Linked DNA regions of Homo sapiens. The protein of the gene in region 2 interacts with the protein of the main gene of each other region in a pairwise test. Each region holds a gene or a part of one and is shown on either strand. Other genes may lie near its edges.

Region 1 (3,818 bases), on a different chromosome or scaffold from region 2:
CCAGGAGGAGTTCCGCTATGACATGGATGAGGGTGAGGTCCCTGCGCAGGGAAGTGGGGCGAGGGCCCGCACTTAGGGGCCACGAACAGTGGGATTCCCCTTCCCTTCACCAAGGCCTGCCTTCAGCTGGGCCCCAGGGACTCGAGGAAGGCTTAGGGGGCCCCCTGTGAGCGCTCACTGGAGCCATCTCAGAACGTTGCTCCCTGGCAGGCCCTCCTGCAAGCCTGGCTGCAGTGGGAGAGGCCTGGGTGTGCAGCGGTGCCCATGCGCGTTGTCACAGGAGGACCGACCCCAGGCTGGAGAGCCCTGTCAGACATGCAGAGCCTGGCTTTCTTCTGTTGCATGATTTTTTTTTTTTTTTTGAGATGGAGTCTTGCTATGTCACCCAGGCTGGAGTACAGTGGTGCGATCTTGGCTCACTGCAACCTCCACCTCACTGGTTCAAGCAATTCCCCTGCCTCAGCATCCCAAGTAGCTGGGATTACAGGTGCATGCCACCATGCCCGGCTAATTTTTTTGTATTTTTAGTAGAGGTGGGTTTCACCGTGTTGGACAGACTGGTCTCAAACTCCTGACCTCACACAGGAGGCCCGCCTCGGCCTCCCAAAGTGCTGGGATTTGCATGATTTTTAGCAGGGCTGACTAACAGGAGTATGGTTTCAGACTAGTGGTGTCGGGAACTAGCTCTTTTTCAATGGGTTTGGATGTAAGATTAATCTAGAAACTTCTGCCTCTGCCAGCTCATAGGGCAGGGATTTGACCTCAGTTCTGACTGACTGAAGCCTCAGGCTCCTGGAATCTTTAAAAATCTTTCCCCAAGTGCTTGTGGGCACTTGCAGAAAGTCTGGAGAGAGGACTCGCTTCCCTTAACGCACTTTTCACATCTGACTGAAAGAGGGTGTCGTGCTTGTGAGGGAAAGGGCCATCTGGGAACAGCCTGGGCACGGCGGCCTCAGGCACGGGGTCTGCAGTCCCATTCCACTTAGTTTGTCTCTGTTGTAAATTAAGAATATACTTCCCATTCCTTTGAAAATAATACCTGAAATAATGAAATCACATAAAGCAGTTTTCTCTTAGATGCTTGAAGCACACATAGACTTTCGTGATCGGTAATTCCCCTGAGCGCTGGCATAGACTTTCGTGATCGGTAATTCCCCTGAGCGCTGTAGCAATGCACCCAGTGACGCAGTGCTGAGGTGGGACGTGGGGTCAGGTGGAAACCTGGCTTTACAAGTGAGCATCGTCTCTGCTTCTCTGACTTGCACAGGGAGGGTGGATAGAGTGAGCCCTGGTAGGTAGGGAGTCCACAGGATTCTGTTAGGACTGAGTGGCTAGAGTATGCACAGTGTTACAGCAGCATCTAGCTGTGCCCACAGATGTCAGTCCTTAGTCACTGTGGAGCACAGCTGGAGGGGGAGACACTGGGTTTGATAGGCAGTGTGGGAGTGAGGGGCTGGGCTCTCGCCCTCTAGCACCTAATGGGAAGCTGGAATAAAGGAATCAGTGAGTTCCCTGCAGTGACAGGGACGTGTTACCATGTACCCAGGAGAGGTGATGACTCACCTGGGGCAGGACCAGGAAACTCCGGGTTAGCTGGGAGGGAGGTGGCAAGGAATGGGTGAAACCAGGAAGGAAATTCCAGGCAGAGAGCAGAGTCTGACAGCAGAAGAGTGTGGGGGTGGGGAGGTGGCCCCTTTCCCTTGGAACCAGATGGCCTTTGAACTTGATCCTGAGCCCAGTAGGCGGGACCTCTGGGAGCTGTGGGGATTGCCTGTATCAGGCTTGCTCTCTGAGCTTCTCTGGGGCAATGAGGATGGGTGCCCTGGAGCCAGGCAAGGCAGGAGGCCCCAGAAACTTGGTGGGGGAGATAACGGAGGGGATGGAGCAGGAGGAATCCTGAAAACCGGACTGGGAGAGATGGGGCCGAGTGGACGATGCCCAGTACCAGCGGGCGTCTGAGACTGTGGGTTCATGCACCAGCCTTGGACAGAGGGAACACCCCCTTAACTCAGTGGTTTTGGGGCTCCAGGGGACATTTGGCAATGTCTGGAGACTTGGGAGGCTGGTGAGGGAGGTGCTGCTGGCATCTTCCTGGGTGGAGGCCGGGGACGGTGCTGAATACCCTGCAGGGCACAGAACAGCCCCCAGCAAAGGGTCACCCAGGCCACAGTGTCAGGAGGGCCCTAAGTGAAAAGGGAGTAATACAAAATAGGCTTAGTCGGCAGAACATTTATCAAAATAATGCAAGTTCAGCATGTATTCATCATGAATCCCACATTACATTGGAGATTTACCCTGCTAATTTCTTCTTTAATATACCCAACAGTGAAAGTTATAGAGTTTAATTAATAATAAAAAATAGCTCTACCTTTCACAAAACATTTAAATATAGCGTCTTATAAGAATGTGGCAAATTTCTGCTTTTTTTTTTTTTTTTTTTAAGATGGAATCTTGCTCTGTTGCTCAGGCTGAAGTGCAATGGCGTGACCTCGGCTCACTGAAACCTCTGCCACGGGGTTCAAGCGATTCTCTTGCCTCAGCCTCCCAAGTAACTGGGTTGACAGGCATGTACCACCATGCCCAGCTAATTTTTGTATTTTTAGTTGAGACGGGGTTTCACCATGTTGGCCGGGCTGGTCTCGAACTCCTGACCTCAAGTGATCCGCCTGCCTTGGCCTCCCAAAGTGCTGGGATTACAGGCATGAGCCACTGCGCCCGGCCTGCTTTTCTTTTAAATTAATAGCCAAGCAATTACATGTTTTAGCCACAAAGCTGGCTGTTTTGGACAGGTGTGCAGGCATAAGAGAATTACTGATGTTACATGGATAGTCTTGTCTTAGCATTTACTTTGAGTACGTATTTTGCTTATTTTATGTCGGGTACCAAAAGAAAAAACTGTTGAAGTGCATATGAGATAAAATTTAACATTCAATTTTTGACTGATGAATGCTTAATAGTTACAATAATTTTTTTCGGCAAAAGATCTGTTAGTGAATAAAGGCTTTAAAAATAGAACAAAGTAAATATGAGATATACTCATGTTTCTCTTTTCTTTTCAGGAAACATTAATTCTGAAGAAGAAGAAACTAGACAGTCAGACCTCCAGGACTAAGATGAAGTGAGCCGAGAGGAGATCGTATCATAAGAATGCTTCTGTCGTTAGCCGGGTGCAGTGCTGTGTGTATCTAGTTCCAGCTACTTGAGAGGCTGAGGCAGGAGGATTGCTTGAGTCCAGAAAGTGGCAGTTGCAGTGAGTGGAGATCGCGCCACTGCTCTCCAGCCTGGGTGGCAGAGCGAGACCCTGTCTCAAAAAATAAACAAAAACAAAATGCTTCTGTCAGTTAACAATCTTTATTAGAGGGTTTTTAGTCTTTCTTTCTCAGCTGTATGTTAAGTTGATTGACAAATGCAAATAAACGTCTTTATTATCCTTTCTTTCTGAAATAGCCTCTGCTTCAAGTTCTGTAAACTGAAGGTTACCACGTGGTTTTGCCATGGTTTTTCAGTGGTGTCTTCTCCTTGGATAGAGAAAACTGTAAATCTGCGGGAGACGGTGAATGGAAGTTTGGCTTCTGGCTGAGCTGGGAGAGTAGTTCTGTACCCAAACCCCTCTCTCAGATTTCCCACAAGGGAGGTAGGAAGCACTTAGAACATGAGGATTGCTGTGTGCAATGCTCCTCGAATGCAGTGTGATGGGTACACGGCCGGCTTGGGTAGGAGACCGCCCGCTGCCCCGCAGGGTTCCCTCCCACTCCTTCGCTTCTCCATGTGGAGCCCAGGCCCACTGTGGGGGCCCTGCAGGTGGCTGGGGAGAAGGG
Region 2 (3,818 bases):
TGTGCATGCAAGTTTGAGAAGCAGTGATAACGCACCACTTCAAATGGATCAACACAAGAGGACACCAACCTCTGGGGATATAATTTTTTAACTAGGGGCTCTTTTTAGGTATTTTACTTGCTATGCTGGAGCCTGGTCCAGGACAGGAAAGGGAGAGTATGAAGCTAGTGCCAGCTAAGAACATGAGTTGTTTCCAAACTCACGGTACCAGGCACCATCTGGCAAAGGTTTTCAGAATCTGAAGTCAGGAGTACTTAATCCCTTTTTTGTTTTTATCAAGAGGGCCTTGATTCATTATAAGATCTCTATAATTAGGAAATGCAGCAACAATTCAATGGTAACTGAGACACATGGCACTTAGAGTCATCAAATAGTCAACTTACCGCTGTCTCCAATTTTTTACCATTGCACCATACGTCCATAGCATCTTTTTCTGTAAAGGTAACATAAAAACTTTAAGTTATAATTCTGTGATTTAAAGATAAAGTTAACTTTTCCTATTTATTACTTTAGGAAAGGATTGATATACCAGATCTCTAAAACTCCATTAATATTCCAAAACCCAACACTTTTTCATGGCTTTCATGGCTTGCAGACTCTCCTAAAATTTGAAGAAGCTGTGTTTGTTCTTTGTTCATAAAACTATAATGAAACAAAACAACCTTTTAAGAGAAAGTTATGGTCTTAATACAAATTGATGAAGCCTTATGAAACAAAATGAATCCAAAAGGACAATCTTTAAAGAAGGATGCATACAGGCCGGGCGCGGTGGCTCACGCCTGTAATCCCAGCACTTTGGGAGACTGAGGCAGGCGGATCACAAGGTCAGGAGATCGAGACCATCCTGGCTAATACGGTGAAACCCCATCTCTACTAAAAATACAATAATTAGCCGGGCATGGTGGTGGGTGCCTGTAGTCCCAGCTACTTGGGAGGCTGAGGCAGGAGAATGGCGTGAACCTGGGAGGTGGAGCTTGCAGTGAGCCGAGACCGCACCACTGCACTCTAGCCTGGGCAACAGAGAAAGACTCCATCTCAAAAATAAATAAATAAATAAATAAATAAATAAATAAAAAAGAAGGATGCATACAGATGAATGTGAGGAGGGACCCTTCCATACAAAATGCCCTTCAATATTGACCAGATGACTCCCCTGCCTCCCACACTCACCCAACTGGGTGATGGCACAAAAGACCACTGAAAGCAGCTGCCACGGGATTTATATAGGATAGACAGCATGTCCGCTTTAGAAATCTAGTCCAGCTTCTTACTAGGTAGTACAATAATGTCTATTCCTTTTCATAATGGTTTCAGTTTAGAGAAAAATTATTGGATTACAAGTAAAAAATAGGTATAGCTGGTGGACTGCACACTAAGGAACAATATGGAACAAAATGCTGCCCCGACACACTTAAATGGATCAGTTAACTTGCCATAGCTCATCTCAGGGTGGAGGAGTCCCCAGAGCCCCTTGCAAATGTTAGTGTCCTCAGGAGTAGCAGGAGAGAAGACTACACTAATCAAGAAGCCAGAAGTTGAGCTTTGGGTATTACAGTGAAGAAGAGAAGGAAGTATGGCCTGTATGTGCACAAGGAGTCTGGGGGTCAGGTTTGAGGCACCAGTCCAGGGTCTTACTGCCTGGCCATCTGCTCCAGGAGCACAGTCTAAAGGGGGTTCTTTCTCTCCCCATACCTTGAGATGGGAGCCTCACTTAGAGATGGGAGAAAAGCCTTTGAGGTGCGCTAGATGGAAAAAGAGAAAGCCAGAGGGGTCCAGGAGATATGGGCAGGGGTCACCTCAGTGGCAGCCTTCATAGAAAGCTGCTATAGTCACAGGTGCAGGTAAACTCAACTTGTCCCAAGACATGATCAGTGCACACAGTGCTATGATAAACCACGATGATGGTAGAAACTGGTATTTTACTTGCTATGCTTACTGAACATGTACGTGTACTCAGAGTTTCTACAATAGCGTATTAGCATGCCTCTGAAGAACACTACTAATCCAGAAGCCCTAAAAGAAAATGTATTAAATTTGACTACATAAAAGTACAAAAAAAGGCCAGGCACGGTGGCTCATGCCTGTAATCCCAGCACTTTGGGAAGCTGAGGCAGGCAAATCACAAGGTCAGGAGTTCAAGACCAGTCTGGCCAACATGGTGAAACCCCGTCTCTACTAAAAATACAAAAAATTAGCTGGACGTAGTGGCGGGCGCCTGTAATCCCAGCTACTCAGGAGGCTGAGGCAGGAGAATTGCTTGAACCCAGGAGGCAGAGGTTGCAGTGAGCCAAAATTGCACCACTGCACTCCAGCCTGGGCGACAGAGTGAGATCCTGTCTTGGGAAAAAAAAAAAAAAGTAAAAAAGCCACAGCACAATTGAAGAAAAATGCACACACATTAGCAAAGTCATGTAATAAATGACAAACTCTGAAAAAAATATGTCAAACTCACAGCATGAACAAAGGACTAAACTTACTAATGTGAAGACTATGAGAAATCAAGGAGAAAAAGACCAACAACCAAAAGAAAATGGGGCAAAGGGCATGAACAGGCATCATGAGAAAGGAAATACAAAAGAAACTTAAAACTAAGATGCTCAACCTCACTTATGAAAAAGACAAAAACAACCCTGAAATACCATTGCTTCACCTAGCAGAATGCCAAAAAATCCAAAAGTTTGGCTACATGTTCTGCTGGAGAACCTGGGGAAAATAGCTAACGGGGGTACAAAATGGTAAAAGTACCATGGAAGGCAAATGGGCAAAATCTATTAAGATGACAAATACAATTAGTCTTTGACCCAGAAGAATAGAAGTCCTACTTTCCTACTTCCAGAAATGTGTACTAATATAATATGTGTCCTGTTCCAAGAGGCATGCAAACAAAGCTATTCATGCAGCATTGCTTCTAACAGCAAAAGATTAGAAACAGCTCAAGTGTTCATCAGTTGGGAATGAGCTAAATACACCATTTACTATTGAAATTTACTCTGCAGCTATAAAAAATATGAAAAAGTTCTTTAGGTTCTGATATAAAAGGATCTTCGGAATATAATAAGTGAATAAAGCAAGATGCTTTTATGTGGTAAGAGAGAATATGTGTACTCGCTTGAATCTGAATAAAGAAACACTAGAGTGACACTAAAAATGGTTATCTTGATGGGGGAACATGGCAGATGGGAACAGGGATGGAAGCAAGACTTTTTAATGTGTCTTTTAATAGCATTTTGATTTCTGAATCTTGAGTATGTAACCTATTCAAAGTGGTATGTTAATAAAAGGACATATCTAGCTGATAAAATTTCAAATCTATTATGACTCAGTGCTGGATTTAGTGACTCATGGGAGTTGCTGCTGCATGTTCATCTTGGAGCATCTCCTCTTTGCCTGCGGATTCCCTCAGCCGCATGAACAATAGCTAGGGACTTCCCAGGTGAGTCCTGAGCAGGTTATGTTCTGTAAATGCTATCAAAGAGAAACTTTTCAGAACAGAAAGAGAATTTCCTTCCAGCGTGAAGTTTCATATGTACTTTCCTCCTGCCAGCTTTATTTTCCTCCCATGGTATTCAGTGGTGTGGAGACTACAAGAGCTGAGAATGCTAACCAACCCTGTTTTCATTGCCCTTATATGCCTCACATTTTTTAGGTGGTGAAAAAAAATGCACATGATCTTTGAGGTCAGCTCTCAGCATCACTCTTTACTAGCAGTACCCTTTGGCAAGTCACCACCACTCTGAGCTTCCATTTCCTCAGGGGCAAATGAAGATGATACCACCTTTCCCATAGGCTGTTATAAGGGTTAGAAATAATTATATAAA

The links.
Region 1: the proteins of FAIM (region 2) and RSPH1 interact in a two-hybrid assay, tested with the Homo sapiens proteins (one large-scale study listed by BioGRID and IntAct).

The regions. Positions count from the first base shown.
Region 1 is NC_000021.9:42,472,112-42,475,929, reverse strand, and holds the end of RSPH1 (radial spoke head 1 homolog), read left to right. Parts: coding exon 1-32; intron 33-3,059; coding exon 3,060-3,112; 3' UTR 3,113-3,444; downstream 3,445-3,818.
Region 2 is NC_000003.12:138,625,722-138,629,539, reverse strand, and holds part of FAIM (fas apoptotic inhibitory molecule 1), read right to left. Parts: intron 434-3,818; coding exon 384-433; intron 1-383. UniProt on the Homo sapiens protein: Plays a role as an inducible effector molecule that mediates Fas resistance produced by surface Ig engagement in B cells.